Linked DNA regions of Homo sapiens: all the other regions are linked to region 1. The links come from fine-mapping of genetic effects on gene expression. A gene starts in region 1. Each other region holds a variant in brackets. All regions are shown on one strand. Distances are between the middles of the regions.

Region 1 (11,126 bases):
GCCATACAGCAACCCTGGTTATGCAACAAGCTGCCTCGGCCCTGGGCAAACAGATCCTCTGACTCCTCGGCTCCATTACAGGCCATAATGGGACAACCAGACCTCAGGCCCGATGGTTGCATAAAAGCAGGATGGATAGATTTTTCTGGTCACTGTGTTCCACCCAGCTGAGCAGGCATATTCAGACTCCTTCCCTGCTGTACTGCTTAGCTCATGCGAAGCAGGAGCCTTCTTCAGGCAGCCTTCCGGACTAACTCCACTATGCCGTGTGCTTCAAAAGCCCCTGCTCTAATCCATAATGAACACTTGCAGAGTACTCTACTTGTAATAATCCAAACGATTCTCATGACAACACTATAAGTGGGTACTGTGATGCTTTTGTGACAAATGAAGCAACGGAGGCAGAGAGAGCACAAGCGATTACCCAAAGTACTATGCAGAGCCAGGATTCAAACCCAGGCAGTGCAGCCCCAGGGTCAGCCCGGAAGACACCACGCCATGCAGCCCCCTGGCAGATAATTGCTATCACAGCCACATTTGCATGGTGATTCTGAGTTGTTTCCAAATTTTTGCTGGAAGACTATGGATTCCTCGAAGGCATGAATTGTGACTTTCACTTCCGTGGGACCATCCAGGGCCCAGCAGAGCACTGAGTGCACAGGGCCTTCCCAGGGGCTTGCATTCTCGGCTCTGAAGCCCGCCTTCTTTCCTACTCCAGCTGCAGGTGCAAGTGGTGAATCCTACTGAGCCATAATCTTGCTGCTAGAGGCTTATCTAGAGGTGCTTATGCAAGCAGTCTGGCAAAACACCTCTTTAGGGACAAACGTAGAGCTGGAGACTTGGGACGCCTCAGGATGTGTCAGATCACAGCTTTCTGCAGGGCACAAGGCTTCTTGCTGCTTCTCCAGAACATCTCTCCAAATGCCTGTGCAGCCCTGGGTACCTGGGCAGGGTCCAGCTCTACAAAGGATCATGGCTCGAGTCCTTCCGCTCCAATGGGAAAGACCAACCAAGTGAGAGAAAGAGCATGCCGCCCAGAGGGGGAGCTGGTTGCCATTGTCCTCTTGGCTGTCATTTGTTTCTTCAGGGTTTCCAGGCTGGCTTCCAACCGAGGATGTAAGAGGCTGTTACCAAGTCCAGGCAGATCAGCACAAACATATTAACAGGGGTTATCTCAGCGTGGTGTGATGAGGGATGACTTTTTCTCATGGCTTTGCTTCTCTGCCTTTTCTAATTTTCTGCAATGCACATGATTATTTGGGCAATTAAATAATTACAGGGAGGGGAAAGTCACTGTTCTTGCTTTGTCCCTTGCAGGACTCTTTCCCCACACTTATATGGGCTGCTAAGCTCCAATGTGCCCTCTATTGCATGTGGCTTCCACCGAGCTCTTTCTGATCTTCACACCAGCAAACTCCCATCTCTACTCTGTCCTTTCCACACCCTTCACTGTGTACTGATCTGCTCAAATCCTTGCAGATTATAAAATGTTTCACTGGCCCGAGCCTGCTGGTCCCCACAACCCTGATTTCAAAAGAAGTCATCTTTTGTGTCCTTGCAGAGCGTGCCTGGATTGTGTCTCTATCCTTGGTCCCTTACCTGGACTGTAGCCCCAGTTAACTGCTGAATACCAGCAGCTGGGTGTCCTCAGCAACCATGTCCACATGAAGCATCTTAGTCTCACCCACTCCTTCTGTGTCTCTACGAGCAGCATTGAGCTGTAGATGGGAAAGTGTATGGAAATATGATCACTTTTTCCCTAGGGCAAAGAGGGTTGGTGTTCTTTTCTTCAAAATTTATTTTGAATCTGTCTTTTCTGTCTCCCCACTACCCCTCACTCATGCTCCTGAGTCACTGCTGAGCTCCAGGGCTGTACCTTTCTCATTTTGGAATCTCTAGGATCTAGCATAGTACCCAGTGCACAGTATGCCTTCAATGTATGCCTCTTGGTTCAATGAATGAATGCATGAAAAAATGGGCAAATAAGTAAGTTTTAATAATTTGTCACCTTGATTTTTATTTCTTGCAATCCTTCCTGTATTTCTTGCAATCCTTGTTTTATTCCTTGCAATCCTTCCTATATGTCTCTGCCAGTTGAATCTTCCAAAGTGGTGACTCGACCACGTGAATCTCCTCTGGTGACTTTAATGGCTCCCACTGTCTGCGAAGGCCTTTCAAAACCCAGCTGCTTGTTACCTTTCTTTGCAAGGATTTTCTCTCTCACTCCTCAAAGCTCCATTCTGGCTGACTTGGCCTCTCTGTATCCTTTCCTGCCCTTGTTGAGTTGCCCTTTTCTCTGTGTAGCCACTTAGCTGCCTGTGCTGATACTTGCTGCTGGCTAAGCTTGTCATAAGTTCAGTGTGACACCCTTTCCCGTGATGGGCTGATTACAGTAAGGTCCCAATCTAGTGGTGCCTCCCTCTATTGCTGGGTTGGGTAATCTCCCAGTTACTCTGGGTTTGACCATGTGACTTGCTTTGGTCAACAGGAAACAGGATGTTAGCAGAGACTTGAAAAGTGCTTGCTCATTGGGGTTTGCCATCTTTTGCTGCTCTAGGGAATCCAGCAGCTGTCACCATGTAAACAAGCCCAGGCTAGACCAGTTACCCTCATCATCTTAGCTGATAGCCAGCCAGCCACCACAGGCATGAGTCAGGCCATATTGCTGGACCCACAGAATTATGAGCTAAATAAATAGTCTTGGGTTAAGCCACTAAGTTTTAGGCATAGTGTGTTATGTATCTCACAAACATATAAGACTGTGTGTTTGTTGACTGGAGGAAGAGATGCTATAAAGACCACCTTTTAAAACTTCCCAAATACTGCCACTGATGTCCTGATGGAGGTATGAAAACATCCACTAAAATTTGTGGTTTATTCATTTTTCATTATTTTGTTTAAGGAGGTCTATAGTGGAAGAGGGAGATATTTGGGGAAATTTTGTATAGACTAGCTTTCACGATGTTAGGGAATTATTATTGTGTGATAATGGTCTTGCAGTTACACAGAAATTCTTCCTTATTTTTTGGGAAGCACCAAAGTAGGGATAAAATGTCATGATGTGTGCAATACACTTTAAAATGTTTTTGCCAAAATAATTAATGAAGCAAATATGGAAAATAATAATTATTAAATCTAGGTGATGGGTATATTGTAGTTCACTATAGTATTGCACACTTTTCTGTATGTTTAAATTTTTCATTTAAAAAACTTTGAGCTAGACACCAGGCTATGAGCTAGGAGCATAGCAATGACCAAATAGACTCCTACCAACTCAAAGAATGCACATTCTCTGGGAAACATGTTTCCATTAGGAAGCCTCGAATGCAATGTGACTGTGGTCTCCAGGACCTGTGTGATCCTGGCTTTTCCTGTTCCCTCCGCATCATCACTGCAGGTGTGTTTTCCCAAGTTTTAAACATTTACCTTCCCAGTGGCCTTGCGTCTAGAGGAATCCCTGTATAGTGGTACATGAATATAACACATAACAAAAATCATCTCTATGGTGTGTGTTGTTCCTGGGGTTCAATTCAGCAAATTTTCCCTGGGCACCCATGTGTTCTTGGCACTGGAAAAGTACCGGGACTGAAACAGTTGATGGCCCAATCCCTGTCCTCTTAAAACCTAAGGGAGGAGATGGAAAGGGGCACCCAACCCAGACTGAGAGACAGGAATTAGCTGCAAGGGGAACTAGGAAAAGCTTCTTTAAGGATGGAGAGGCCCTAGTGGAATGGGGAGATTCTTCCGGGAGAAGCGATGGATGCACAGTTGGGCATCCCCACAGACGGACTGGAAAGAAAAAAGGCCTGGAGGAATCAATGTGCAATGTATGTGTGTTCCCTGGTTCAAGGGCTGGGAACTTTCTCTAAAGGGCCAGGTAGAAAACATTTTAGGCTTTCTAAGCCAAGGCAAAATTGAGGATATTACATGGGTACTTATACAACAAGAATAAACAATTTACACAATTTTTTGTTGACAGAATTCAAAACTTTATAGACACAGAAATGCAAATTTCCTGTAATTTTCCCATGAGAACTATTCTTCTTTTGTTTTGTTTTGCGACAGGGTTGCGCTGATCCTCCCGCCTCAGTCTCCCTAAGTGCTGAGATGTTGCAGGAAGTCAGGGACCCCGAACAGAGAGATCGGCTGGAGCCGTGGCAGAGGAACATAAATTTTGAAGATTTCATTTTAATATGGACACTTATCAGTTCCCAAATAATACTTTTATAATTTTTTATGCCTGTCTTTGCTTTAATCTCTTAATCCTGTTATCTTCATAAGCTAAGGATGTACGTCACCTCAGGACCACTGTGATAATTGTGTTAACTGTACAGATTGATTGCAAAACATGTGTGTTTGAACAATATGAAATCAGTGCACCTTGAAAAAGAGCAGAATAACAGCAATTTTTAGGGAACAAGGGAAGACAACTATAAGGTCTGACTGCCTGCGGGGTCGGGCAAAGGGAGCCATATTTTTCTTCTTGCAGAGAGCCTATAAATAGACCTGCAAGTAGGAGAGATATTGCTAATTTCTTTTGCTAGCATGGAATATTAATATTAACACCCTGGGAAAGGAATGCATTCCTGGGGGGAGGTCTATAAATGGCCGCTCTGGGAATGTCTATCCTACGCAATGGAGATAAGGACTGAGATACGCCCTGGTCTCCTGCAGTACCCTCAGGCTTACTAGGGTGGTGAAAAACTCCGCCCTGGTAAATTTGTGGTCAGACCAGTTTTCTGCTCTCGAACACTGTTTTCTGTTGTTTAAGATGTTTATCAAGACAATACGTGCACCGCTGAACACAGACCCTTATCAGTAGTTCTCCTTTTTGCCCTTTGAAGCATGTGATCTACTCCCTGTTTTACACCCCCTCACCTTTTGAAACCCTTAATAAAAAACTTGCTGGTTTGAGGCTCAGGTGGGCATCACAGTACTACCGATATGTGATGTCACCCCCGGCGGCCCAGCTGTAAAATTCCTCTCTTTGTACTCTCTCTCTTTATTTCTCAGCCAGCTGACACTTATGGAAAATAGAAAGAACCTACGTTGAAATATTGGGGGCAGGTTCCCCCAATATCTGGTGCCCAACGTGGGATACTGAGATTACAAGCATGAGCCACTGCATCTGGCCTCTTCTTTTGATTTTTTTTTTTCAAACTTTTACAAATGTAGAAACCATTCTTAGCTTTTGGGCATTACCAAACCCGGCAGTGGCAGGCTCGGTTCACCAACGTCATTTGCAGTTCCCCGCTTTATGTTATGGGTTTTGTTTTGTTTTGTTTTTTTTATTGAGACAGAGTTTCACTCTTGTTGCCCAGGCTGTAGTGCAATGGTCTGATCTTGGCTCACTGCAACCTCCACTTCCCAGGTTCAAGCCATTCTCCTGCCTCAGCCTCTCAAGTAGCTGGGATTACAGACACTCACCACCACACCTGGCTAATTTTGTATTTTTAGTAGAGATGAGGTTTCACCATGTTGGCCAGGCTGGTCTCGAAATCCTGACCTCAGGTGATCCACCCACCTTGGCCTCCCAAAGTGCTGGGATTACAGGCTTGAGCTACCACGCCTGGCTGGGTTGGTTCTCAATGGAGTGGTTTGTTTTTGGAGCTGCTCTGCGCAGTGGGGACCAGAATAGGCCTGGGTTCCTAGCCCATTGCTATTCCTTACCAGCTGTGGATTCTAAGGAAAGTCATTTAACCTCGCTGGACCTTAGATTCCTCATCCCTGAAGCCCAAGGGTAAAACAAAACAAAACAAAACAAAACAAACCAACCCATCATGTAAAGCGGGGAACTACAAACGATACAGGTGAAACATGCCTACCACACCACTCACAGGCTATGATGACAAAAACGTGGCTACATCTGGGACCACCCCCCAACCCCCACTTTGTACGTAGGAAATACGGAGTTGAGGATGGAGACCCACAGTATGTCCAGAGTGTCCCCAAAGGCCACAGTGCCCGCCTGGAGCCCTCCAGAGAGCGTGCACTCCCTGGGGTGCCAGCCAGAGACAACTTGCCCTGAGGCTTGGAACTCGATTCTCCGCGTGCCAGAGAAGGGGTGGGACTTCAGAACCCCCAACCCCGCAATCTGGGTCGGGGAGCCTGGCGCACTGCGGGCCGCTCCCTCTAACCCTGGGCTTCCCTGGCGTCCAGGGCCGTCGGGGCCGAGTCCCGATTCGCTCCCACCCCGAAGCCGCGCCAGGACCAACGAGGGCGCAGCCGTATGCCCCAGCCCGCTCCGCGGAGCCCCTCACAGCCACCCCCGCCCCGACCGCGCCCCGCGCGGCTCGAAGCACCTTCCCAAGGGGCTGGTCCTTGCGCCATAGTCGCGCCGGAGCCTCTGGAGGGACATCAAGGATTTCTCGCTCCTACCAGCCACCCCCAAATTTTTGGGAGGTACCCAAGGGTGCGCGCGTGGCTCCTGGCGCGCCGAGGCCCTCCCTCGAGGCCCCGCGAGGTGCACACTGCGGGCCCAGGGCTAGCAGCCGCCCGGCACGTCGCTACCCTGAGGGGCGGGGCGGGAGCTGGCGCTAGAAATGCGCCGGGGCCTGCGGGGCAGTTGCGCAAGTTGTGATCGGGCCGCTATAAGAGGGGCGGGCAGGCATGGAGCCCCGTAGGAATCGCAGCGCCAGCGGTTGCAAGGTAAGGCCCCGGCGCGCTCCTTCCTCCTTCTCTGCTGGTCTTTCTTGGCAGGCCACAGGGCCCCACACAACTCTGGATCCCGGGGAAACTGAGTCAGGAGGGATGCAGGGCGGATGGCTTAGTTCTGGACTATGATAGCTTTGTACCGAGTTCTAGCCAGATAGAAGGTTACCGGGAGCTGGGGAGCGTTGGATTTGCTGCTGGGCTGTGCCGGTGCCCAGAAGGCAGGACCTTGCAGAACCAGCCAGGTCCCTGGGAGACTGTCAGACCCACCAACCTGGTGGCATTCGCAGAGCTGAGATGCATTGGAAATTGCCTTGGGCACATCCCCAAAGATCAGGATGTCCCACCCCAGTCTGAAGGAGATAAAGTTGGGGGTAGGAGAGACGCAGATGCAAGTGATCAGTCTCAGTCCCAGACATTGCCTTGCTCTGCGGGTAGGAATTCAGGATTCATTTTCCAGGGAAGTTCCTGACCTCTGAATGAGAGGGGCTGTGTAAGGCCAATGCCTGGGAGGAAGGCAAGGATGAGTAGAGGTGGGGGGAAACAAGTGTCAGGAAGACTCAAAATCTTCCAGAGAAATTGTGCAGGGTCTTACCAGATCTGTCCTCAAAGCCATGCAAATTGCCTTCTTTGCAATGCATACAATGAGGTGTCTCTGGGGGTCAGAACTGGTTATTAGGGAACTTCTAGCCAGGACTGCTAAATACGCGCTGTTGGCCCACCAGGCTCACCTATAGCCTTCCTTCAGTCTGGGCTTGGTTTGGATTTCACTGTGGGTGCCATCGCCTTTACACTCCTGTTTCTATAGTTTAAAGATAGTGGTGCTTTGGGAAAGTGACTCCTTAAATACAGTTAGGTCCAAGTGAGACAAGTGGCCTGGCTGTCATTTCAGAATAGCAGCTTCCAAGAGGTGATTAATTTCTGTTGGAAGGGTGATCTTTGGGGAGGTGGGTGAAGAGCAGAGACTTGGTGGTACCGTTCCAGGAGCACAGGCTCTCTTCCTTTGCAGTGCAGAATGACCTCTGGCAGCCGGAGTTGTGTTTGTTCTGTAGGATTCTGAGGTGGGCCATGGGCAGCTGGAACTGGGGAATTTTGCCAATCTCTTTCATATTAGGATTGTCTGCAGAACCAGATATGGAGGCTTCTAGCAACGTGAGTGCTCCTGTTCTAATGCCCTTAGAAACAAGAAGGCCACACTGATCATTTCTCTCACTTAGGCAGGGAGACAAGGCAAGAGAGAAACAGTGGATGCTTTTAGGTTCTTTCCCTTCCCAAGCAGTTGTGGACATTGGGCTGAGGGGAACATTTCCACATTGGCTAAAGGAGCGTCCTCCTCATATTTTGTACATTTTATACCCAAAATAACTCTTCTTGGTATTTGGGGAAATATTTTCCTCCCCGTCCATTCCAGGAAATGGCTCCAAGTGCCAAGGACAGAGCCAGGGAAGTTGCAATGAATTCCTGCCCGTCAGCCCCAGGCAGATGCCTTGCACGTCTGAGTGGCCCATGCAGAGCGTGGAGGTGGCCGCCACGGAACCTGGGTCAATGTCCCACCCCCGCTTAGATGCCACCAGGGGCGTGGGAGCCAAGGAGAGAAGAGGGGCTCCAGGAAGGTAGAGTCCTTGTGTCTTGTGCATCTGTGAACAGCACTGGTATGATTTAAAGGAAAATTGAGCCAAATTTTCCGGCAGTCAGTTACCCCATCCCCACCGGGGTAGGAGTCTGGCAGCCGCAGCTCCATTCTGGCCAGTCGGCAGAGAGCCTTGAAATTCTTCTTTGTCCACACAGTTGTCTCAGAGAAACAGAGAGGTTGTTTCTGCTTAAAAACAACACACTTGGTGTCTGGGCCCACAGACTCCTTTGCACTTATTCCACGTGTGACAGCCAATGTGCCTCGTTGCTTAGCAGACAGCATGTTACCGTCTTTCCTGCTCAGTTTGTTAGCTCTATGGAATGGAATTTATAATCAATGCCCATACCAACATTTCACTAATATCATAGGAGATTTAGTCTCCATCTGGGTGTACATTACATTTGCTCTGGGGTGCTCCAGGCTGGGGGGTTGCCAAGGAAGAGAAGAGAAACCGCAGAGAAGACGGGAGGGCAGGGCAGGGGTCTCTGAGAAGGGGAGGGGTCCCAGAGTGCAGGAGCAGGAGCCAGGCTCATGAAAGGGGCCACGGGCGGGAGTATCCAGGGACGGCAGTCAAGATGGAGCACAGCTTAGGAAGCTGAAGGGAATCCTGGCCCACCTGGGTGCTAGAGGGCACATAGGAAGTGCAGGAAGCAGACCAAGGTCCCCAAGAGAGGGAGACCTGGACGCTGAAGCATTTTCTGTCTTTATTAAGACAACTCCGTAAGAATTCCTGCTGGGCCAAAGTGAATTCTAGGATGCGACTTTAAGATGGGAGCAAGCGAACCATTGAGGAGGCAGGTTACCCTAGTTAGCCAATGCAGATCGAGAATGGGAAATCTTTCATTTATTCATGCAACAGATATTTAACGAAGCCCTGCCGTGTTCCAGGCCTGTGATAGATGCTGGAACAGGTACAGAGATACAGGTGTCATTAATTGATCAGGGCAACCTCTCCTTCTGAGTCTTGCTGGAGCTTCAGATGCCCCTCACACAGAGCTCGAGGGAGCCTCAACAATTGATCAGAAGTCAGGCACCATGGCTCACGCATATAATCCCAGCACTTTGGGAGGCCAAGGCAGGTGGATCACTGGAGCCCAGGAGTTCCAGATCAGCTGGGGCAACATGGCAAAACCCCATCTCTATTAAAAAAAAAAAAAGTAACTGGATGTGATGGTACACACCTGTAGTCCCAGCTACTTGGGAGGCTGAGAGGTGGGAGAATTGCTTGAGCCCGGGAAGTCGGGGGTCCAGTGAGCCTTGATCACACCACTGCACTCCAGCCTGAGTGACAGAGCAAGACCCTGACACACACACACACACACACACACACACACACACAGATTAGAGCTGAAACAGGAGTAGAAACCTATCTGTATCTCTGATGAGATCAGATCTTTCTGATGAACAGAAAGAATGTAACCCCTGTACTCACACCCTCTCTGCTGGTTACATATGTTAACACGATTTCTCAAATGAGGCTTTTGGTTGCAAATAAGAGAAAATCACTCACGCTGGCCCTGTGTTTTTCAAATTGTTTATTGTGATCAACATTTGAAAAAAGAGCCGAGACTCTCAAGAGTGCATTACCCACGGTAAGGGTGAATTTTACTTCTTGACACTTATTTCTCTTACATGTATCTATCTGTCTCAAATGAAAAATATATTTAGAAAGTTGAAAGCTATCCAAGTGAGTATAAGAAAAGAGTATCTCACCCTGAAGGCTAAGGACAGGGAGGGCCACCAGGCCTCACGAGGACCCAGGAACCACAAAGAAGGCTAGGAAGGAGCACAGGCGGTGACCATACTCTGGCTCAGTGGCTATGTGGGCTCTGGTCTCTCTCAGCTGTTCCATGCATATGAGGCCAAATGTGGCTACCCTAGAGCTTCTGAGCCCTCAACAGAGATGAACTGGACTCTCTGCAGCCCCACTCTAAATTCCTAAGAGAGAAGTTGATTGACCCAATCAGGGTCAGGAGAAGGAAGGGAGGAGGAAAGGGAGGAGAGAAGAGCCTCTTCGTCTCTTGCCTACCACTGGCCAGGCAATTGTAGCCAAGGGGGCTGGAGTGTAAATGCAAACATAGCCATCAAGGGTTGTGTATGTGTGTGTGTGTGTCTGTGTGTGTGTATGTGTGTCTCTTGGGTAGGTTAGATCTCCCAGGAGGTCCCTACTAAACAGACTTAAGCCCGCAAAATTTTAGCTCTCCAGCCTCACACACTCCACCCCTCTACCATATTGAATCTTCCCAAACCAACTATGGCTTTCCCTAACTCCGGAGCTTGGCCTGGAATGCCCTGCTTCCCCTCTTTCCCCTGGGGAACGCCTGTCCTTCAGGCCTCAGTTCACACACTGCCTCCCTTGCAAAGCTCTCCTCCCATCCCCGGAGTCCCTCTTCCCCTTTGTTCTTTGGGTTCTATGCTTCTTCCCTCATAACTCCCACCAGGTTGTGTTAAAATGAGTTGTTCAAGGTCCTGTCTGTTCCACTAGATTCTGAGCAACTTGGAGAACGAAGATCCAAACTTCGCTGCCTTTATTTCCTCCTTTGTTCTTTTCTCATCCCCAAGTCCCTTCCAACTTGGAGTTATGAAGAAAGGAAGGAAGGAAGGGTGGGAGGGAAGAACAGGAGGGGATCCCACAGGAGAATGTGTATAGGGAGAGGACTCAGACTAGCTAAAGCTTTTCCCTCATAATTAATAGCAAATACCATGTTACCTGAATTTAATTCACAGTAGCATACAAAAGACTCGCTTTGTTCTCCCCATTGATGTCATCAGAGGGCTGTGGGCAGGCCTAATCTTGGCTCAGGAGGCCCTCCAGCCTGGATCTAAAGAGCAGCAGATGGGC
Region 2 (11,126 bases), 45 kb after region 1:
CAGGTTTTAGTATCAGGATGATGCTGGCCTCATAAAATGAGTTAGGGAGGTGTCCCTCCTTTTCAATTGTTTGGAATAGTTTCAGAAGTATTGGGGGAACCCGCCCCCAATATTTCAACGTAGGTTCTTTCTATTTTCCCTAAGTGTTGGCTGGTCTGAGAAATAAAGAGTACAAAGAGAGGAATTTTACAGCTGGGCTGCTGGGGGTGACATCACATAGCGGTAGGACCGTGATGCCAACCTGAGCTGCAAAACCAGCAAGTTTTTATCAGGGATTTCAAAAGGGGAGGGGGTGTACAAACAGGGAGTAGGTCACATGCTTTAAGGGGTAAAAAGCAGAGCAAAGATCACATGCTTCTGAGGAAACACAGCAAGGACAAAATCAGAACTCCCGATAAGGGTCTACGTTCAGCAGTGCACATATAGTCTTGATAAACATCTTAACAGAAAACAGGGTTCAAGAGCAGAGAACCAGTCTGAACTCAAATTTACCAGGGTTGGGGTTTCCCAATCCTAGTAAGCCTGATGGTACTGCAGGAGACCAGGGCCTTATCTCAACCACTTAAGACAGACACTCCCAGAGCCTTATTTCAGGCTTTATCTCAACCACTTAAGACAGACACTCCCAGAGTGGCCATTTATAGACCTCCCCCAAGGGATGCAATTATTTTCCTAAGGTCTTAATATTAATATTTCTTGCTAGGAAAAGAATTTAGCGATATCTCTCCTACTTGCACACCCATTTATAGGCTCTCTGCAAGAAGAAAAATATGGCTCTTTTTGCCTGACCCTACAGGCAGTCAGACCTTATGGTTGTCTTCCCTTGTTCCCTAAAATCACTGTTATTCTGTTCTTTTTCAAGGTGCACTGATTTCATATTGTTCAAACACACATGTTTTACAATCAATTTGTACAGTAAACACAATCATCACAGTGATCCTGAGGTGATGTACATCCTCAATTTACGAAGATAACAGGATTAAGAGATTAAAATAAAGACAGGAGTAAGAAATTATGAAAGTATTATTTGGAAACTGATAAATGTCCATGAAATCTTCACAATTTATGTCCTCTGCCAAGGCTCCAGCCAGTCCCTCCATTCGGGGTCCCTGAATTCCTGCAACACAGAAGGAATGGTACCAGTTCCTTTTTGTACCTCTGGTAGAATTTGGCTGTGAATCGTCTGGTCCTGGGCTTTTTTTGGTTGATAGGCTATTAATTACTTTTTTTTTTTAAAGATAGGGTCTCACTCTGTTGCCCAGTCTCGGGTATAGTGGCACAGTCTCAGCTCACTGAAACCTCCACCTCCCAGTTCCAGTGATCCTCCCATCTCAGCCTCCCGAGTAGCTGGGATTACAGGCATGTGCCACCACACCCAGCTAATTTTTGTATTTTTAGTAGAGACAGAGTTTTACCATGTTGGTCAGGATAATCTTGAACTCCTGGCCTCAAGTGATCCACCCACCTTGGCCTCCCAAAGTGCTGGGACTACAGGTGTGAGCCACTGAGTCTGGCCTCATATTCAGATTCTTGTGAGAATACTTATACCACAAGAATGGGCAAACACTACAAATCAGGGCTTTCCCCACCTCCTCTAGAGCCTGTTGTTAAGCATCTGCCAGCACACCACTGGGTTGGCCTGCTTGTCAGAGTCTGAGGATGTGGAGTGTGGTCTTTGAGGAGGATGGGAGCAAGAGCTGAACTAGGAGCAGCAGGGTTGCCGGATGCTGCTGCAGGCCCAGCTGAGGGAGGAGACCACAGTTGGACAGGGCCAGGCCTGCTGGCATTAGCAAACGCCATTGGCTGCATTTGTTGAGGACTGGAGTTTTGCCAGGTGCCTGTAAGGGAAGAACAATGGGGAGAGGGAGTTTAGAATGGAAAGAGTTAGTGTTTGGTGCTGGAGCATGGATTTGAGATGGAAAGGGAGAGATGTGGAGAAACAGAGATTGTGGGATGGGCATGGAGGTGTCCATGGGCTGAAAGTCCCAAAGAGCCAGAGGAACAGTGTGTCACAGGTGACTGAGCTAATCTGCTAGAGTGGAGGCTGCAGTCAGGTGCATGGCTGAATGTGCTGTTTCCTGGCAGGTGGGTGGCCCCTCCAGGTGCACAGCATGGCCGCTGGCATGGGCTGAGGCAGATGGAGGAAAGGGCCCTGAGGATGAGGAGTGAAGGAGGTGAGCGGTCAGGAGCTGGATGGGATGTGTCCAGGGAGGCTGATGAATCCTGGGGTTGTGGCAGGACTTGGAGCAGAGAAGGACAAATAGAGAGGGAGAGGGAAGAATAGAGAAGGGAGAGAGGGAGGGAAGAGGAGGGGAGGGAGAGAAGAACCCAAGGGAAGAGAAAGAAAAACATTCATTTTGGGCAGAGGCAGGAAAGGGAAACTAATGTGTCAGGTTTGAGGCTGTTTGGGGGCATCATTTTGTGATAGTAAATGTCTCTATTTTAATCAATAAGGCTAAAGGACTTGATTGAGAATCTAAACCACCCCAGGGACCAGGCTAAATGTCTCCATTTGCAATTCTTAAATTGTCATAAGAGTCTGAAATGATCAGACTCTTCAGAGGTGTCCCAGATCACAGGACAAAGGGTACCCAAGAAAATGAAGAGTGGCTGGGACAGTTCACAGGGCCCAACCCGGATGGCCGCCACACACAGCTCCTGGCCTGAGACTAATCTGAGAGAGGAGGCTTCAGAGGAAAAGGTTTGAGACCAGAAGGCAGGGGGTGGGACCAGATCTCAACTAGAAAAGTCTGATCCCTCCAAGGACCCAAATGGGGACCCAAGAAATTCTCTCAGTCAGCCCAGAGAGTGAAAGAATGATGAAGGTTCTTTCAAGTTGCAGAAATCATGTTTTTCTTACTCAAATGTGGATTTGCTATACCCAGCCCAGTGTCTCATATAGAGCAGGTGCTCAATAAGTATTTGTATAATTAAGCAAAATTGATTTTAAAGAAATAAGAAGAGGGTGTGTGCATGTTTCAACCTATCGGTTGGAGACCTGATATGTTCCCCTTCCAGACAGATTTTAAATTTAAGGGGCATCTGTTCTCAGGATCTCCTGGAGCTGTGTCATGGAAAAAAAAAAAAAAAGAAAGAAAAGTTTAAAATGGAGAAGAAAGAAGGTATCAGTACAGTTAACTCTCTAATAGAGGACTCCCAGCTCTCAGTTGATGGTTTTCTTCTTCTTCTTCTTTTTGTTTTTTAGTTTTGTTTTTTGTTTGAGGGGTGGGGCTTGAGACAGAGAGCCATGACTTTTGAGCAGTCATGATCACAGCTCACTGCAGCCTCCACCTCCCAGGCTCACACAAGCATCCCACCTCAGCCTCCTGAGTAGCTGGGCCTACAGGCATGCACCACCACACTGGCTAATTTTTAAAATTTTTTGTAGAGATGGGGTCTTACTATGTTGCCCAGGGTGGTCTCAAACTCCTGGCTCAAGCGATCCTCCTGACTTGGCCTCCCAAAGTGCTGGGATTACAGGTGTAAGCCACTGCACCTGGCCCAGTGGATAGCATTCTATTCTCTTCGTGGAGAATAGGTGGGAAGAGCCTTCCTTTGCTTCTTAAATGACCCCGACCCTGCTGTGCAGCAAGCGCAGCTGGCCACACATGTAGCCCTCACTCAGCTACTGCAACAGCTCTGAGTGCTGGGCACCGTGCTGAGCACTTTCCAAGTAGCTGGACTTGCTTCAGCCTTACACAGCACTCAGAGAGGAGGTTATTACCATTTCGTGTATAAATCAGCACCTTCAGGTCAGAGAGGATGCAGGGTGACACCACTGGCCAGGGTGGGCCTGAGCCACCAGCCTTCTTTCAGTCCTCAGAGCCTGGGCCCACCACCCATCATTGCCTGCCACAAATGATGGACCGTAGTCACAGCAGTCGCCCTCTTCTCCTCACCTGCTTGGAGCTGGTGCCCACCGATCCCTTTGGGCAAGCACCTGCCCTCTCTGGTCACAAAGCCAAATCACTCTCTTGTCCTGTAGGTAAAGGCACGGCATGAAAAACCCCAAAAATTCCACTTTGAAAAGAACTTCATTTTGCAGCAAAGGGAGGGGTGGAGGGAGGAGAGAAGTATAGAAAATGATTCAGAAACAGCTGAACTTTGAAAAACAGAAGAAAAATCTCTCGGGCGCTGCAGAGAAGTGCAGTTTTAAATGAAGACTTGCCAAGGGACTGAAAAATTGCTTATGAGCAGAGGACATCGGCTCAGGGAGCAGCTGAACTGACAGGAAAGACAGAACTGCTGGGACGACAGTTTGTCCAGCAGCAGCAAAGGAAACTTGAGCACACTCTTAGTCACTGGATTTCAGGAGGCCACTGAATTCTACAACCACTAAATAGCATGACTGCGAAATACGATCGATTCCAAATATGATAGCCACTGAGTCCTATGGGGCTAATACCTGAAACTAAATACTAGAGTAACTAAATATTACAGATATGAAATACTATGTGTCCTAAATACTACAGCCACTTAATTCTACAGCCACGAATACTGTAGCAACTGAACCTACATCTCAGATGTAAAATACTGGTTGTTATGACTCCAGTACAGTGGGCTGAAGGAAAATCAGTAACTTTGTTAAAAGAATAACAGCCTTGGCCGGGCGTGGTGGCTCATGCCTCTAAGGGAGCCTGGGAGGCTGAGGCGGGCGGATCACCTGAGGTCGGGAGTTTGAGACCAGTTTGGCCAACATGGTGAAACCCTGTCTCTACTAAAAATACAAAAATTAGCCCAGCGTGGTGGTGCATGCCTGTAATCCCAGCTATTCAGGAGGCTGAGGCAAGAGGATCACCTGAACCTGGGAAGCGGAGGTTGCAGAGAGCCGAGAACACGCCACTGCACTCCAGCCTGGGTGACAGAGCCAGACTCCATCTCAAAAAAAACACAAAACAGCTTTGGTCCCTGAATTCACCTGTCGGCCCCGCTGTCAGCTGGGGCTGGAGGGAGGAGGAAAGGAGAAATGTATGATGAATTCAATTCAATTCCATGAAGGCCAGAAGCCTCCCTCTCCTTCCTAGGGCCTCCACTGCGTGAGAGCCTCCATCTGGGCCTGGCAGCCATCTCACAGTCCCCCAGTCCCCGCCCAGTCTAGCTTGGGAAGGGGTGTAAAACTCCTTTCCAATGTGGCTGTTTCTTTGACACACAAATCTGATGGCAATGAACTCCCAGAAAGGGCCCCCCAGTCCAGCAAGTGTGGTAGATGCTGGGGGAGGAAAGGAGAAAGGTTTCCAGAAAGCGTGATTGCTGAGCTGAGAATCAGCTGGAAGGAGGAGAGAGAAGGTGGCATTCTGGAGAGAAGCACAAAAAGGAGAAATCGCATATGAGTGGCAAAACCCAGCAGAGCTCTCTGTTGCTGAAGCCTGAAGTTTTAAGTTAGAAGAGCAGGGAAATTTGGTCAAGCAAGCGTGGACCCAATGGGCAGAGTTCTTAGTGCATCAGGCTAAAGTTGAGCCTTTATTCCACAGTTGATGGGCAGCCACCATGAGGCTTTAGGTCAGGGAGAGGGCAACATGCCTGTTAGGGAGGTGACTCTGGCCAAGGCTGGAGTTTGAGATGGCTGGTGTGGAAACCATGGCACCTGTCCAGGGCAAGAAGATTGAGAATCTGGGCAAATGTGCTGGCAACAGGCAGGTCGAGGTGGGGCGGTCTCAGGAATTATTTAGGAGTAACATTTTACACCCTCCCCAAGAATCGGCAGAGCTTGGCCAGTGACATGGCATAGAGGTGAGAGCGGAGAAGTCTCCTACAACCGAAGTGTCTAGTGTGGATGATTGTGGATCATGGTGCCACAAACTGGGACAGATGATGTAGGAAAAAGAGTGAGCCAGAAAGTGTTTCATTTCCCTGTATTCCTGCATTAAAAACCTCCCTAAAATGTGGCCTTAAATAACAATTCATTATTTCTCATGATTGTGTGGGCCAAGAAATGGTCAGGGCTCAGCAGGGCAGTTTTGCTCCACACAACTTTACCTGGGGCCATTCTCTTGACTGTGCCCAGCCAATGGCTGGTCTGGAAGGTCCATGTGTCCCTCACATGCTCAGCACCTTGGTGCTCCTCCACATGGCCCCTCTCTCTCCAAGTGGCTAGCTTGGGCTTCCTCACAGCATGGTGGTCTTAGGATAGCTGAACTTCTTCAATGGGGTGGCCTCCCAGAGGGTGTATTCTAAGAATCAAAGGCAGATGCTCTATATCTTCCAAGTCCCAATCTCAGAAATGACACAAAGTCACTCTGCCACGTTCTATTGGGTACAAGAAGTCACTGATCCAGTCCATATTTAAGAAAAGGAGAAACAGCCTCCAACTCTGAATGGAAGGAGTAGCAAAGAACGTGTGGCCATTTTAACCCACCACAGTGGGTGCAGTGAATGCTGTGAGGTGCCACCCAGGTGCCCCTTCAGAATGGAGGCATTTGGTTCCCTGAGGGCGTATTGGCTGCTCATACCTGGGTCCCTCTCCAGGAACTGTCCTCCCCTAAAGGCACATCCCCTCTCCAAGGAGAGTCGCCATCCAGTGACTGGTGGGTGCGGGCATACCAGAGCCCAGCTCCCAGAGTCTCTCTGGAGCAATTCTGAAGGATCATCTCAGCTCTAGAGCTGTGGGACCAGCTGATGGCTCCGTGTGTCGAAGTTCAAGTTCTCCCTCTGCCTGGTCTGCTTTCCTCACTCCCTTCGGATGCTTCTCCCGAGTCCTCCCCAGTCATCTCCTGCACTTAAATGCACCTCACAGCATTTGCCAAGAACCTGCCCAAGGTTGAGGAACCTGACCTCCACCAAGAGGCTGAGCTCTGACTGGGAGTGTAGTGGTTGGACAGCCTCTGCAACAGTCAGAGCCTCCACAGTGGGCAGGGTTTGGGAGGCTGGAGGCTGGAGTCTGAGGGAGACATCTGGGCCTGTGATGGAGTCAGCAGAGTAAGGGGATCGGGAGGCTGAGGTGAAAACCACGTGAACATTTACTCAAACAATCTGCTAATGGTTTTTTTTTTGTTTGGTTGGTTTTTTTGTTTGTTTGTTTTTTGAGACAGAGTCTCACTTTGTTGCCCAGGCTGGAGTGCAGTGGTGTCATCTCGGCTCACTGCAGCCTCCGCCTCCTGGGTTCAAGCAATTCTCCTGCCTCAGCCTTCCAAGTAGCTGGGGTTACAGGTTCCCACTGCCACACCCAGCTTATTTTTGTATTTTTAGTAGAGACAGGGTTTCACCATGTTGGCCAGGCTGGTCTCAAACTCCTGACCTCAAGTGATCCTCCCACTTTGGCCTCCCAAAGTGCTGGGAATACAGATGTGAGCCATGCACCCAGCCGAAATCCGCTAATGTTAATCATCCGATTGTTTCCAATTTTCATTATTATAAACGTTAATACATGGCCTGATACCTAAATTCTTTCATTCACAGTTCTGATCATTTTTTTTTCTCATATTTTTAGAGACTATGTCTCACTAGGTCTTGCTAGGCTGGTCTTGAGCTCCTAGACTCAAGCAATCCTCCTGCCTAAGCCTCCTGAGTAGCTGGAATTACAGGCGTGCACCACTGCACCTGGCTCTGATCCCTTTTTTTAGTGAAAGATTTTGAGTGAAATGATTCATCGCTTGAGTGAAATAATGAATTAAAGAATATGAGCATTCTTGAGGCTACCAGGATTTTCCAAGGCCCCTTTGCACACCGCATTTACACGGCATTCTCCTTCAGCCAAATTCCCTAAATTCACAAGAGGCCTGATTTAGGGAAGGTCACTGATTCAGCTGGAGAGTTAATTATTCATTTGAATTGGTTTATGCAAAAAGCTCCAGAGAGCCCACAAGAATAAATTGAAAAGCTATTAGAACAGGCAAATTTAATAAAGTGGCTGGATGCAAAATTCAATAGCTTCCTCATCAACTAGCAATAACCAATTAGAAGATATAATGGGGGTGGGTGGATGGGGAAGCAGAGATAGCAACAATAACAAAAACACCTCAAATCTACTGCACCAGTGTTAGAAATGGAAACTATCTCTTATAACTTTGTAGACTTTTTTAGAAACCCATGAAATAATTAATTCAATGGGAAATCATGCCATGTTCCCAAATGGAAAGGCTGCATGTGCTGCAGAGTTGACCTGTAGGTTGAACACAATCCAATTAAAAGTCCAAGGAGATTTGC[T/C]GCTTTGTTGTTGTTAAGCATGCCACAGTTCTTCTAAAGTTTACTCAGAAGAAATACATAGGCAAGAATAGCTGAGAAAAAAAATGTGAAGATGAATAAGGAGGAATTTTGCCTTATCAGATATTAAATATACAATAAAGCTAAAATAATGAAAATAGTGTAGCCATGATGCAAGAATTAGCAGACACATCAGTGGGGTCATATCTACAAGCAGGAGTTCGCGTACAAGAGGCTTGTGTCTAATGAAGATGGAATTGCACTGCTGTGAGGTGAGGTGGCATTATTTGGTAAGTGGTACAGAGAAAATTGGTTAACGATTTGGGGGGACATACTCTCACATCTCACATTCAAATAAGTACATTCTGTGTGGATGAGTTAAACGCTGTTATGGGTTGAACTATGTCCATAAAAAAAGATATGTTGAAGTCCTAACCCCCAGCACCTCAGAATGTGACCTTATTTGGAGACGGTTTCATTCCAGATGCAATTAATTATGCTAAATTGCAGTCATAGGAGAGTAGGGTAGGCCCCTAATCCAATATGACTTACATGCTTATAAGAAGATGGCATGTGGAGACAGAGGCAGGGACTGGAGCTCCATGCTGCTACCAGCCAAGGAAGTCTGGGGCTACCAGAAGCTGGAAGTGGCAAGGAAGCATCTTTCCTCTATGGGTTTCAGAGGGAGCGGCCCTGCTGACACTTTATCTCAGACTTCCAGCCTCCGGAGCTGTGAGACCATACATTTCTGTTGTTCTAAGCCACCCAATTTGTGGCACTTTGCTACAGCAGCCCTAGGACACTAATACAAATGTCTAATTATAGAACCATGTTAAAAATTCAGAGGAAATATAGGTAAAAAAATGTATATACTGTACTTGCAAAAGCAGTAAGAAACTTTGGGAATGATAGCAAGAGGAGTCTAAAAATTTTAAAAAATAAAACATTTTTTAAAAGCAGTAAGAACTTTATAAGCATAAAAGCAATGGAAAAAATCGAAAAGGAAAATCAAACTTTATATAAAAAATAGGTCTACCAAAATTAAAAGGTAAACAGCAAACTTGGAAATTGAACTGCTACAAAATGACAATATGGCCACTATTCTTAATGAGTAAGGAGAACCTTAAAACCCCACTGGAAAATTGGGTGAAGAAGACCAGGCATGGTGGCTTATGCCTGTAATCCCAGCACTCTGGGAGGCCAAGGTGGGTGGATCACCTGAGGTCGGGAGTTTGAGACCAGCCTGACCAACATGGAGAAACCCCGTCTCTACTAAAAATACAAAATTAGCCAGGCATGGTGGCACATGCCTGTAATACCAGCTACTCGGGAGGCTGAGGCAAGAGAATCGCTTGAACCTAGGAGGCAGAGATTGCAGTGAGCCGAGATCACACCATTGTACTCCAGCCTGGACAACAAAAGCAAAACTCTGTCTCAAAAAAACAAAAGAAAGAAAATTGGGTGAAGAAAATGGACAATTCACACAGAATACACATGACTATAAACATACAAAAGATCCAACCTTGCTAGTAATCAAATCCATATAAATAGAAGACACTTTTTGCCTTTCAAATTAACTTAATCATGAGAGGGTACAGTAAAACTTGTATCCTTGTATGTCCCTCCATAATACCATACATGGTATAAATTTCTACAATTTTTAGAATATAATCTGGTGCTATGTATAAAGAGGCTTTTTAAAATTCATACCCTTTGACTCAGTAATTCTCCTTCTAAAAATCTATCTTAAGGAATTAATTAGAAAGGCCAATGTTTATCTACAAAGATGTTCATTGCTGGACAGTGGCTCATGCCTGTAATCCCAGCACTTTGGGAGGCTAAGGCAGGAGGATCACTTGAGCCCAGGAGTTTGAGACCAGTCTGGGCAACAAAGGGAGACCCCCATCTCTACAAAAAATAAAAAAATTAGCTGGGCATGGTAGCACACACTTGTGGTCCTAGCTTCTCGAGAGGCTGAGGTTGGAGAATCGCTTGAGCCCTGGAGTTCAAGGCTGGCAATGAACTATGATTACACCACTGCACTACAGCCTGGGTGACAGAGCAAGACTCTATCTCAAAAAACAACAAAAAGATGTTCATCACTGCATTATTTATAGTAATGAAAAATTAGAAACTGCCTCAATGTCTAAAGGGAATCATGGCACATCCATGTGATGTTAAATTATGCAACCATTAAAGGTGATGATTTCATTATATTTAATGACATGGAAAATACAATTAAATGACATGGAACATTACACATATTTAACATTACATGGAACATCCATATAATGTTAAATTATGCAACCATTAAAGGTGGTGATTTCATTGTATTTAATGATAAGGAAAATACAATTAAAATGTAAAATTCAAGAGCTCAGGATTACATGCATAGTATTATTAGCCAAATTTTATAAAACACATATCTACAGGGGAAAAAAAGTGTTAAAATCAGCCAAAATACTTATTGTTTCCTCTGGATACCATGATTTATAGATGGTTTTAATTGTTTTCATTCCAGTAAAATACATGTAACAAAATTTACCACTTTAACAATTTTTTAGTGTATAATTCAGTAGCATTAAGTACTTTCACAATATTAGGTAACCTATCACTACTATAATTTTCCAGAATTTTTTCTTTCATCTTCCAGGACTTTTTCATCTTCCCACACTGAAGCTCTGTACCCATTAAACAATACCTCCCTCCCCATTGCCCCTTACTCTCAGCCTCTGGTAACGTCTGTGGCACTTTCTGTCGCTCACAAATCTGCCTAGTCTAGGTACTTCATACAAGTGGAATCATATTATATTTTCCCTTTGTCTGGGTTATTTCACTTAGCACAGTGTTTTTAAGGTTCACCCATGTTGCAGCACGTATCAGAATTTCATTCTTTTCTATGGCTGAATAATGTTCCATTGTACATAACTTAAATATCCCATTTTGTTCATCCATTCATCTGTTGATGGACATTTGGGCTGTTTCCC
Region 3 (11,126 bases), 60 kb after region 1:
GAATGACTACTGGGTACATAACGAAATGAAGGCAGAAATAAAGATGTTCTTTGAAACCAACGAGAACAAAGATACAACATACCAGAATCTCTGGGACACATTCAAAGCAGTGTGTAAAGGGAAATTTATAGCACTAAATGCCCACAAGAGAAAGCAGGAAAGATCCAAAATTGACACCCTAACATCACAATTAAAAGAACTAGAAAAGCAAGAGCAAACACATTCAAAAGCTAGCAGAAGGCAAGAAATAACTAAAATCAGAGCAGAACTGAAGGAAATAGAGACACAAAAAACCCTTCAAAAAATCAATGAATCCAGGAGCTGGTTTTTTGAAAGGATCAACAAAATTGATAGACCACTAGCAAGACTAATAAAGAAAAAAAGAGAGAAGAATCAAATAGACGCAATAAAAAATGATAAAGGGGATATCACCACCGATCCCACAGAAATACAAACTACCATCAGAGAATACTACAAACACCTCTATGCAAATAAACTAGAAAATCTAGAAGAAATGGATAAATTCCTCAACACATACACTCTTCCAAGACTAAACCAGGAAGAAGTTGAATCTCTGAATAGACCAATAACAGGAGCTGAAATTGTGGCAATAATCAATAGCTTACCAACCAAAAAGAGTCCAGGACCAGATGGATTCACAGCCGAATTCTACCAGAGGTACAAGGAGGAACTGGTACCATTCCTTCTGAAACTATTCCAATCAATAGAAAAAGAGGGAATCCTCCCTAACTCATTTTATGAGGCCAGCATCATCCTGATACCAAAGCCTGGCAGAGACACAAACAAAAAAGAGAATTTTAGACCAATAGTCTTGATGAACACTGATGCAAAAATCCTCAATAAAATACTGGCAAACCAAATCCAGCAGCACATCAAAAAGCTTATCCACCATGATCAAGTGGACTTCATCCCTGGGATGCAAGGCTGGTTCAATATAAGCAAATCAATAAATGTAATCCAGCATATAAACAGAACCACAGACAAAAACCACATGATTATCTCAATAGATGCAGAAAAGGCCTTTGACAAAATTCAACAACCCTTCATGCTAAAAACTCTCAATAAATTAGGTATTGATGGGACGTATCTCAAAATAATAAGAGCTATTTATGACAAACCCACAGCCAATATCCTACTGAACGGGCAAAAACTGGAAGCATTCCCTTTGAAAACTGGCACAAGACAGGGATGCCCTCTCTCACCACTCCTATTCAGCATAGTGTTGGAAGTTCTGGCCAGGGCAATTAGGCAAGAGAAGGAAATAAAGGGTATTCAATTAGGAAAAGAGGAAGTCAAATTGTCCCTGTTTGCAGACGACATGATTGTATATCTAGAAAACCCCATTGTCTCAGCCGAAAATCTCCTTAAGCTGATAAGCAACTTCAGCAAAGTCTCAGGATACAAAATCAATGTACAAAAATCACAAGCATTCTTATACATCAATAACAGACAAACAGAGAGCCAAATCATGAGTGAACTCCCATTCACAATTGCTTCAAAGAGAATAAAATACCTAGGAATCCACCTTACAAGGGACGTGAAGGACCTCTTCAAGGAGAACTACAAACCACTGCTCAATGAAATAAAAGAGGATACAAACAAATGGAAGAACATTCCATGCTCATGGGTAGGAAGAATCAATATTGTGAAAATGGCCATCCTGCCCAAGGTAATTTATAGATTCAATGTCATCCCCATCAAGCTACCAATGACTTTCTTCACAGAATTGGAAAAAACTACTTTAAAGTTCATATGGAACCAAAAAAGAGCCCGCATTGCCAAGTCAATCCTAAGCCAAAAGAACAAAGCTGGAGGCATCACACTACCTGACTTCAAACTATACTACAAGGCTACAGTAACCAAGACAGCATGGTACTGGTACCAAAACAGAGATACAGATCAATGGAACAGAACAGAGCCCTCAGAAATAACGCCGCATATCTACAACTATCTGATCTTTGACAAACCTGAGAAAAACAAGCAATGGGGAAAGGATTCCCTATTTAATAAATGGTGCTGGGAAAACTGGCTAGCCATATGTAGAAAGCTGAAACTGGATCCCTTCCTTACACCTTATACAAAAATCAATTCAAGATGGATTAAACACTTAAACGTTAGACCTAAAACCATAAAAACCCTAGAAGAAAACCTAGGCATTACCATTCAGGACATAGGCACGGGCAAGGACTTCATGTCTAAAACACCAAAAGCAATGGCAACAAAAGACAAAATTGACAAATGGGATCTAATTAAACTAAAAAGCTTCTGCACAGCAAAAGAAACTACCATCAGAGTGAACAGGCAACCCACAAAATGGGAGAAAATTTTCGCAACCTACTCATCTGACAAAGGGCTAATATCCAGAATCCACAATGAACTCAAACAAATTTACAAGAAAAAACAAACAACCCCATCAAAAAGTGGGCGAAGGACATGAACAGACACTTCTCAAAAGAAGACATTTAGGCAGCCAAAAAACACATGAAAAAATGCTCACCATCACTGGCCATCAGAGAAATGCAAATCAAAACCACAATGAGATACCATCTCACACCAGTTAGAATGGCAATCATTAAAAAGTCAGGAAACAACAGGTGCTGGAGAGGATGTGGAGAAATAGGAACACTTTTACACTGTTGGTGGGACTGTAAACTAGTTCAACCATTGTGGAAGTCAGTGTGGCGATTCCTCAGGGATCTAGAACTAGAAATACCATTTGACCCAGCCATCCCATTACTGGGTATATACCCAAAGGACTATAAATCATGCTGCTATAAAGACACACACACACGTATGTTTATTGCGGCACTATTCACAATAGCAAAGACTTGGAACCAACCCAAATGTCCAACAATGATAGACTGGATTAAGAAAATGTGGCACATATACACATATGCAGCCATAAAAAATGATGAGTTCATGTCCTTTGTAGGGACACGGATGAAATTGAAAATCATCATTCTCAGTAAACTATCGCAAGAACAAAAAACCAAACACCGCATATTCTCACTCATAGGTGGGAATTGAACAATGAGAACACATGGACACAGGAAGGGGAACATCACACTCTGGGGACTATTGAGGGGTGGGGGGAGGGGGGAGGGATAGCATTGGGAGATATACCTAATGCTAGATGACGAGTTAGTGGGTGCAGCGACCAGCATG[T/G]CACATGTATACATATGTAACTAACCTGCACAGTGTGCACATGTACCCTAAAACTTAAATAATAAAAAAAAAAGACAATACGCGCACAGTTGAACATAGACCCTTATCAGTAGTTCTGTTTTGCCTTTTGTCTTGTTTCCTCAGAAGCATGTGATCTTTGTTCTGCTTTTGCCCTTTGAAGCATGTGATCTTTGTACCTACTCCCTGTTTTACACCCCCTCCCCTTTTGAAACCCTTAATAAAAAACTTGCTGGTTTGAGGCTCAGGTGGGCATCACAGTCCTACTGATATGCGACGTCACCCCCGGCAGCCCAGCTGTTAAAATTCCTCTCTTTGTACTATTTCTCTTTATTTCTCAGTCGGCCGACACTTATGGAAAATAGAAAGAACCTATGTTGAAATATTGGGGGTGGGTTCCCCCAATACTTCTGTATTTTTCAGATTCTCTTTACTGAGCATATATTATTTTTACAATCAGAAAAAAATGAACGGATTTATTTTCAAATGCCCCCCATTGCTCTTCTTTAAATATACAGAATATATTCTTTACATATAAAACACTGCTCCTTCAGAGCCAAGCAAAGGATCACTCATTTTCCCCTTAACTGAGAACAAGGGCTGCACATGAACAAAACGCCTGCTTTAAAATGTACCCATGGCTGGATGCTGTGGCTCACACTTATAATCCCAGCACTTTGAGAGGCTAAGGTGGGTGGATCACTTGAGCTCAGGAGTTTGAGACCAGCCTGGGCAACATAGCGAAACTCTGTCTCTATAACAAATACACCAAAAATTAGCTAGGCATGGTGGTGTGTGCCTGTAGTCTCAGCTATTTGCAAGGCTGACGTGGGAGGATCACTAGAGCCCAGGAGGTCGAGGCTGCAGTGACCTGTGATTACACCACTGCACTCCAGCCTGGGAGACAGAGTGAGACCCTCTCTCTCAAAAAAAAAAAAAAATGTACCCATATTTGTTTTCATCAGGTATGGTAAGATGACAGACACAGAGAAAACTATCTCTGCAAGAAGAGTTTGTTATGCAGTTCCCAGGAGGAGAGGTGTGTCACGCCTTGCAGGGCCACACAGGAAGAACTTGGGTCAGCCAAGAAGCAGAGGGGGTGAGGGAAAAGCACGATCCAGCGCCTTTAATGTAGTTTCCAGCAGAAAGGCAAGGCAAGGCAGGGAAGCAGGCTTAGGATTGGCTAATCTGTATAACTTTGGCAGGCCCTGGCTATAGGGATTGTCCCTAGTTGTCCCATGCCTGGCCCTGGAGTGATTTAGGGCAGGGGGAATATTGGCTTGCTGTGTCAGAGTTTGATAAAGGAGGTGACTGGGGGTGTGGGCTCTGGATTGACTGGTTTGCATACGAAAGGCACGCTCGACCAAGTTGTTTACTCTCTCCCCAAAGTAGCTAGCCCTGGGAGGGGCAGTCTCTCCAGGATAATGCATTATAAAAACAACAACAGCACCTGATTAGTATAATGACATATGTTTCTCTTCACAGCAGTTTGTAATAGCAAAGGTTGGAAACCGTTGAATGGGATTTCCATCACATAAAGAACTGGTTATGTAAATTATGTTACACTGATACAATCCAATGAGCCTCCCTTCAGAGAGAGGCACCCTCATGGCCTAATTACTTCTTTAAGGACCCCATCTCAATACTATCACATTGGCAATAACCTGAATTTTGGAAGGGACACATTCAAACCATAGCAGAGATGTAATCAAATTAAGATGAAATCATTGGGCTGGGCCTAAGCCAATATGACTGGTGTCTTTATAAGAAGAGGGAAATTTGGACATAGACCTATAGACACAGGGAGAAGATGGCCATGTGACAACGAGGCAGAGACTGCAGTGATGCATCTATATGCCAGGCAACGCCAAGAAATTCCTCATGAAGGAACCAACCTTGCCAACACTTTGATTTTAGACTTCTAGCCTCCAGAACCGTAAGGTGATAAATTTCTGTTGTTTAAGCCACCCAGCCTGTGGTACTCTCTTACAGTAGCCCTCCTGACTAATATAGGCCCTTTCTCAACTTTCCCTAGAAGCCCAGGTTTCCTTGCTACAACCCTGGCAGAGGCTTTGGCACATTTCACCCCTCCTCTCTTTGTGATTGGTTTTCACAAAGAAGCTCAAAGTGGAGGAATGATCTCTGGACATGAAGCCTGAGGACCATGCAAGCTCCTTCCTGCCAGAGGCTCTGTTCTGGGTTCTACCTGACCTGGACTCTGAGGGCTCTGAGCAGGGAAGGGTTAGAACCCAGCGTGGATCAAACATTTGAGATGAATCAGCACTGATAGCTGGAATGTGAGCTCCCAAGTGGCTTGAGCTCACTCTGCTCAGGACCCTCTGCAGCTCCTGGGGGAACACTGGCACAGACGGGTGCACAGTTAATATTCAGTTAACACCGGCTGGCTGAATGAAGGGCGAGCTATCTTGAGCCTGACTTTTCTGATCCTTCAATGAGCATGCTAACATCATCCAACCCCTGACCTTGTGGTGAGGATCAAAGACGTTAATGCCCACTAAACGCTTTCTACGATGCCTGGAAACAACTGTTATCAATACTGTGCTATGTTTTAGTAAAGAGGGCTGTTCCCTGAGAGCAAAATTGGCAAGTGGGTCTCACCTCCCATGCTGACTCCAATTGTTGGGTGCGGTTGCATGGATTGATGTCAAAAGCCTCCCAAGGCCCAGTCTGGGCCAGATGCAGGGACTGTCATGATCCCTTAGCAGTGTTTGCTCTGGAAAAGGAGGAACAGGGACCTGGGTGCCATCTCTTCACAGCGCTCCACCCCTAGGGCCTGCTTAAATGGCACAGCCAGCTCCTCAGAGAGACAGGACACACTCTCCTTCTGCCTGCAGTTGTGAGGAAAGAAGGGGCACTGAGGAGGATGGGTCACCCCGGGAGCAGAGCCTGGCTCATATCCTGGTATCCCTGCAGAGGCTGGAGGTGGGGCCAGCACCACCTGAGGACATGTAGCCTTCCCAGGATTCTGGCGTGTGTTCCCATCCCTAGCAGGAAAGAAGTGGAAATTAGCCAATCACCCTGGAAGTGGGCAACCAGTCTTTCTCCCCTTTCCTGTGAATTCACTCAGGACACTGGGGACAAAAGACATCACAGACCCTATCTCCCGTGCTCTTTTACAGTGGCTATTTCATTTAGTACTAGGGGGCTTTTTGCCTGTATTTTATAAATGAGCAAAGAGGACTGGAGGGTCTGAGTGATTTGTCCAGGGTCATCCTCTGTCCTTTGGCTTTTACCTGTGTCACCACAGCCTCCTGGGGAGATGGCTGTGAAAGTGGGCAAAGGGTGAGTCTCAGCTTCACAGGGCTGCAGCATCAGCAGCCTCTCTTGCCTGTCCGTCAGCACTGACAGGGGCAACACCTGGCCTGGCACAAGGCTCTCCGCTTCTTGCCCTCAGGACTTGGAGTCTCTTGGAAGGAGCCTCAGCCCTTCTCTTGGTTCCTGCTTTTGTCTCTAGCCTTCCTAGAGTAGCTCAGATCAGTTCACACCCCTCTACCCACGACTACCCAGGAAAGGACATGATCCCTCATTAAGACCCAGCTATTGCCTAAGGGTCACTGAGGGCCTCAAACCCCAGAGGCTCTGTGGCAGGCACCTGGGAGCCCACTTGGCGGGCCTTGCCCTGGCCCAGACATCACAGACCACTCTCACTGCACTGGCTATTAAGTGCCTGCTCTCTACTAGGGATTCCTAGGGGGTGGCCAAGAGAAGGAAAGACACCCCCACAGGAAGGATGGGCCCAGAAACTGACTTTCCATGGCTCCGACGAGGGGTCCTGAGGCACTCTATCGAAGTGCAAGTCCCTGAATCTGTGTCCCAAGCTCTGAAAATGCAAGAGGTGCTTGGAGCAAACAGGGAGTGTCCTGTCACTGAAGGTCTGCAAGCAGAGGGGTAAGGGACTGTTTGCCTCCTACAGATTTCCCTTCTTTCTCTTCTTCTGGGCCTCTGGGCCAGAGACAGGCATTTTACTTGATGCGATCATCCTCAGCACATGCCTGACACATAGTAGGTGCTCAGTAATTGTTAGCTGTTGTTATTAACCATTATGTGAGTTTAGAGTGCCCGTCCTATTGCAGAGAGGGAGAGAGCAGAGACAAATGGTGATTCTAAGAACCTGTCCCCTTCCCTGGGACTCACTCCAGTGGCTGGTCGCCAGTTGCACCCACACGCGGCTGGCTGCGGGCAGGAGAGCTGGGCTCATTCGTTCTGGCAGCTGTCCCTGCAGATGAGGATCGAGGGTATGTGACTGCCTGAGCAGCTACTTCAATCCTAATGTCCCTTTAATAGCTCTCGTCAAATTGCCACAGCTCTCCCCAGAGATTTTCATGGCTATGGAAAATAAATAGCCATTATCTGACCTCCAGGGGAATGAAGATGTCTGCAGAATTCGGGGAAAAGCAGTTATAAAACTGAGTAGAGCCAGCGCACCCTTTCCCTATTAGCAACCTCTAAGGGAGTCCTAGCTACTGCCTAGGAAATCACAAAATAAATGTATTCACTCCTCAGACTCTCTTTTTTCACCTATTAGTATGTATATGAGTACATTTGGCTTGTGGTAGATCAGGAGAGAGAAAGAAAGAAAAAACAACTACAAAAATATGTAATGATTAGTTAGTCCAGGGGTAGCAGGAAAAGAAGCTGGTCAAGTAAAGGGTTTAATCCTTTTTTATTTTTATTATTTTTTTAGACAGGGTATCACGCTGTTGCCCAGGTTGGAGTACAGTGGTACAACCATAGCTCACTGCAGCCTCAAACTCCTGGGCTCAAGCAATCCTCCTGCCCCAGCCTCCCGAGCAGCTGGGACTACAGTGCACACCACCACACAAGGCTAATTTTCAAATTTTGGGCAGTTTTACTATGTTGCCCAGGCTGGTCCTGAACTCCTGGCCTCAAGGGATCCTCCCATCTCAGCCTCCCATAGTGCTGGGGTTACAGGTATGAGCCACCAAGCCCAGCTGGAAGTTTTTAAAACGTTTCAACATTCAAAGAATGTGAGAATGAAAATGCCCTTCCTTTTCTTACCACCTAATTTGGAAAAGAGAAACTATTTTTTTAATCCCAAAAACATTTGGTATAGCTGGCAAAAAGTGTTCTGTTCTTATATATGAGACAGTTCCTGAAATAGGCCCTAGAGACAGCACTCACGGCCAAGTGGGACCTTGCTCTGGTACTAGCTCAGGTGGCCAAGGGGTTTCAGGAGAGGGTCTGGACTTCCCCACATCCTGCTTTCATCAGCTCTAAGACTAGGTGGTGACATCTGCTTCTCAATAACCTTCACCAGGCTTGCTGTGAAGGTCACCTGAGATAAGAGACGTGAAAGGATGCTGAAGATGCAAAAGCCTAAGCCAGGCAGCCCTGCTTGGCCTGGCCTCCTGGAAAGGGGCAATGCCCCAGCCCAGCACACAACCAGGGCCTCATGATGACAATTCTGCAAAACTGGTCCTTGGCTCGTCCTCCCTTGCCAGGATGAGACTGTGCAAAGCCCCACCCACAGGCAGCTGCTCCAGGTGTCGTTTAAGGGCTCCAAATTCCTTCCAACTAAAAGTATCTTTCCATCCCTGTTGGTATAGTGGTTAGGGGAAAAAAAATTAAAAGAAAATGAACAATGTATTTTCCACGTCAAGATGCCTGAACTTCCCATAACAGCTGTCACTTTAAGAAGCCATAAGAGAAAGGGCCAGGTCTCCATAGGTCATTATTCTTCCCAGGCGGGGTCAACTTCCTCTATTAACACCCATGCACGTATCAGAAGCTACCCATGAAAGGCCAAGGGCCTACAGCAAAGCTCCCATGACTGGAAAGTATTTAAGCATAAGGAACAGAATAGTTTCGAGGGAAGGATAAGAAAGAGAGTCGGGAAGGCTGGGCAGAACACTACTTGGACAACTAAAAAAGCAAGTGGGGACATCTCAAAGAGTGGGCTGGCCACTCCCAGAACCTGTGTAAGCAGGAAACAAAAAGCATTTATTGCTGGTAAATGCTTAACAACTGGCTCTCTGGGATAAAAATGTATATATGTACAGAAATTTATTATAAATTTCATTGATAAAAATGATGTGCAGCACATAATTTATAAATAAAATATACAATGCCATTTATTGTAATTCTAGAAAAGTTTTTTACAGAATGCTTTTGTTGATTTTTGCTGACTCTTCTATCCAACCTGTTTGCAATTCAACCATGATATGACACAACCAGACTACAAATAAATGTTTGTTACTATCTGATTCAACAAAGCAGTCACTCATTTCATGGAATGGATATGGGCTGTTACTCAGTGAAAAGACACATGAGATGGTTCAGTGCTAACTCACCCTTCTGACAGAAAATGCCAGAAAGTTTCCACCCCATTGACAGGCTTGGAGTCTTGAGTACCATCTGGGTGGGTGGAGCTGGCACTGGCACGAAACCTCTCCACTGCTATCCTGACAGAGATGGGGCATGTACTTCCCAGGGCCACTTGCCAACCCAGGGAGGTTTTCCATCTTGCTGGTTTGGTGAGGGAGGCTGCTTTCAGATTTCAAGTGGACACTGCTGGCCTGGATAGGGCTGAGGGGCTCTGCCTCCAAGAGGTGTTCTTCGCTTTGTGGCATTACCTCTCTGAAGTACTTTAGAGTACTTTACAGGCCTGCTTTACTCCTCAGAATCCTGCTGCAGAGCTGAGGGCTGGATAATTTCATGTTCTCTGGCAACTGATGGCCACTGTGGTACCAGAGGAGGGATGTATGTCTGGGCACTTTCAAAAGTATGTTATTAGAAAGTTGCGCATCACGGCCGGGCACGGTGGTTCATGCCTGTAATCCCAGCACTTTGGGAGGCCGAGGTGGGTGGATCACCTGAGGTCAGGAGTTCGAGACCAGCCTGGCCAACACTGGTGAAACCCCGTCTCTACCAAAAATACAAAAATTAGTGGGGCGTGGTGGCGCACGCCTGTAATCCCAGCTACTCCGGAGGCTGAGGAAGAACTGCTTGAACCTGGGGGGTGGAGGTTGCAGTGAGCTGAGATCATGCCACTGCACTCCAGCCCTGGGCAACAAGAATGAAACTCTGTCTCAAAAAAAAAAAAAAAAAAAGAAAGTTCTGCATCAATCCTGTTGTCTCACTGTAAATAGCATAAGAACAATGTTCTGGCCCCTCCCTCCACTTGAGTTGCCAGGTTCTACGACAGGGTCTTCCCCACCATGGACCAGAATACAAGATAGCATTTTTTCTGCAGTAGTATCCAAAGCAAAAATTTCATCAGAAGGATGGCATTGGAGTCTCTTTCAGTTGAAAAGTGCATGCAGACAATTGAGTGTCAGATCCAGGGGAGAGGAAAAGGCGGCAGAGAACTAGGGAGACAGGTCGAGAGTAAGGAGATGAAGGGACATTTGAGACTCTGAATTTTTTCTTTTTTTGTAGAGGTGGGATCTTGCTATGTTGCCCAGGCTAGTCCTGAACTCCTGGGCTCAAGTGATTCTCCCACTTTGACCTCTCAAAGTGCTGGGAATATAGGCATGAGCCACCATGCCAAGCCGAGGGAAGCTGTTTCTTACAGCTGGGTTTCTTGCACATCCAGACTTCACATCCCGCCTTGTGCATACAGACTGGGAGTCCCTTGGGTAGCGGGGGACAGGAATGGGATTGGCTTTGGCCATGAGGCAGATTAAGCAACACCTAAGGGGAGTTGCTAGTGGACCAAGGCCCAGACCACAATGCAGGGGAGAGGGAGAAAAGGGGTGGAAGAGTGACAGGAACTGATATTTTTTTAGCAGTTACTATGAGAGGAATAAAACTGGACAGGAAAGAAAGAGAAAATACATAAAACAAGGACAGGTTGTTCGGCATCTCTTCAGGAGATGACTGTCTGGTACATCCTTTACCACCATTATCCTCAATCACCAATCACTAAGCATTGCCATGTA

Which allele goes with the higher level. Positions count from the first base shown, and alleles are read on the strand shown. Sizes are in standard deviations (SD) of each study's normalised expression. Not every link is listed here.
In carriers of allele G in region 3, the expression in monocytes after LPS of the gene that starts at base 6,620 in region 1 tends to be higher than with T alone (moderate effect, 0.46 SD a copy in Fairfax 2014).

Evidence for each region. PIP is the estimated chance that this variant, and not a neighbour inherited with it, causes the effect.
Region 2: its variant is the best candidate, but not a certain one, in a credible set for the expression of LEP in whole blood (INTERVAL, PIP 0.77).
Region 3: its variant is the best candidate, but not a certain one, in a credible set for the expression of LEP in monocytes after LPS (Fairfax 2014, PIP 0.71).

The regions. Positions count from the first base shown.
Region 1 is chr7:128,234,659-128,245,784 of GRCh38, forward strand. It overlaps LEP (leptin), which reads left to right and starts at 6,620. Exons shown (of 3, transcript NM_000230.3): 1 at 6,620-6,648. RefSeq lists enhancers at 2,437-2,576, 4,669-5,074, 4,674-4,733, 4,711-4,746, promoters at 3,698-6,648, 6,402-6,648 and cis regulatory regions at 4,669-5,074, 6,566-6,574.
Region 2 is chr7:128,280,036-128,291,161 of GRCh38, forward strand. No RefSeq gene overlaps it. Among named protein-coding and RNA genes, the nearest start is that of LEP, 44 kb to the left of the region's middle. The variant T/C (reference allele first, on the strand shown) is at 8,143.
Region 3 is chr7:128,294,885-128,306,010 of GRCh38, forward strand. RBM28 (RNA binding motif protein 28) reads right to left here. Exons shown (of 19, transcript NM_018077.3): 19 at 2,801-11,126. Among named protein-coding and RNA genes, the nearest start is that of RBM28, 43 kb to the right of the region's middle. RefSeq lists an enhancer at 4,332-4,626. The variant T/G (reference allele first, on the strand shown) is at 3,187.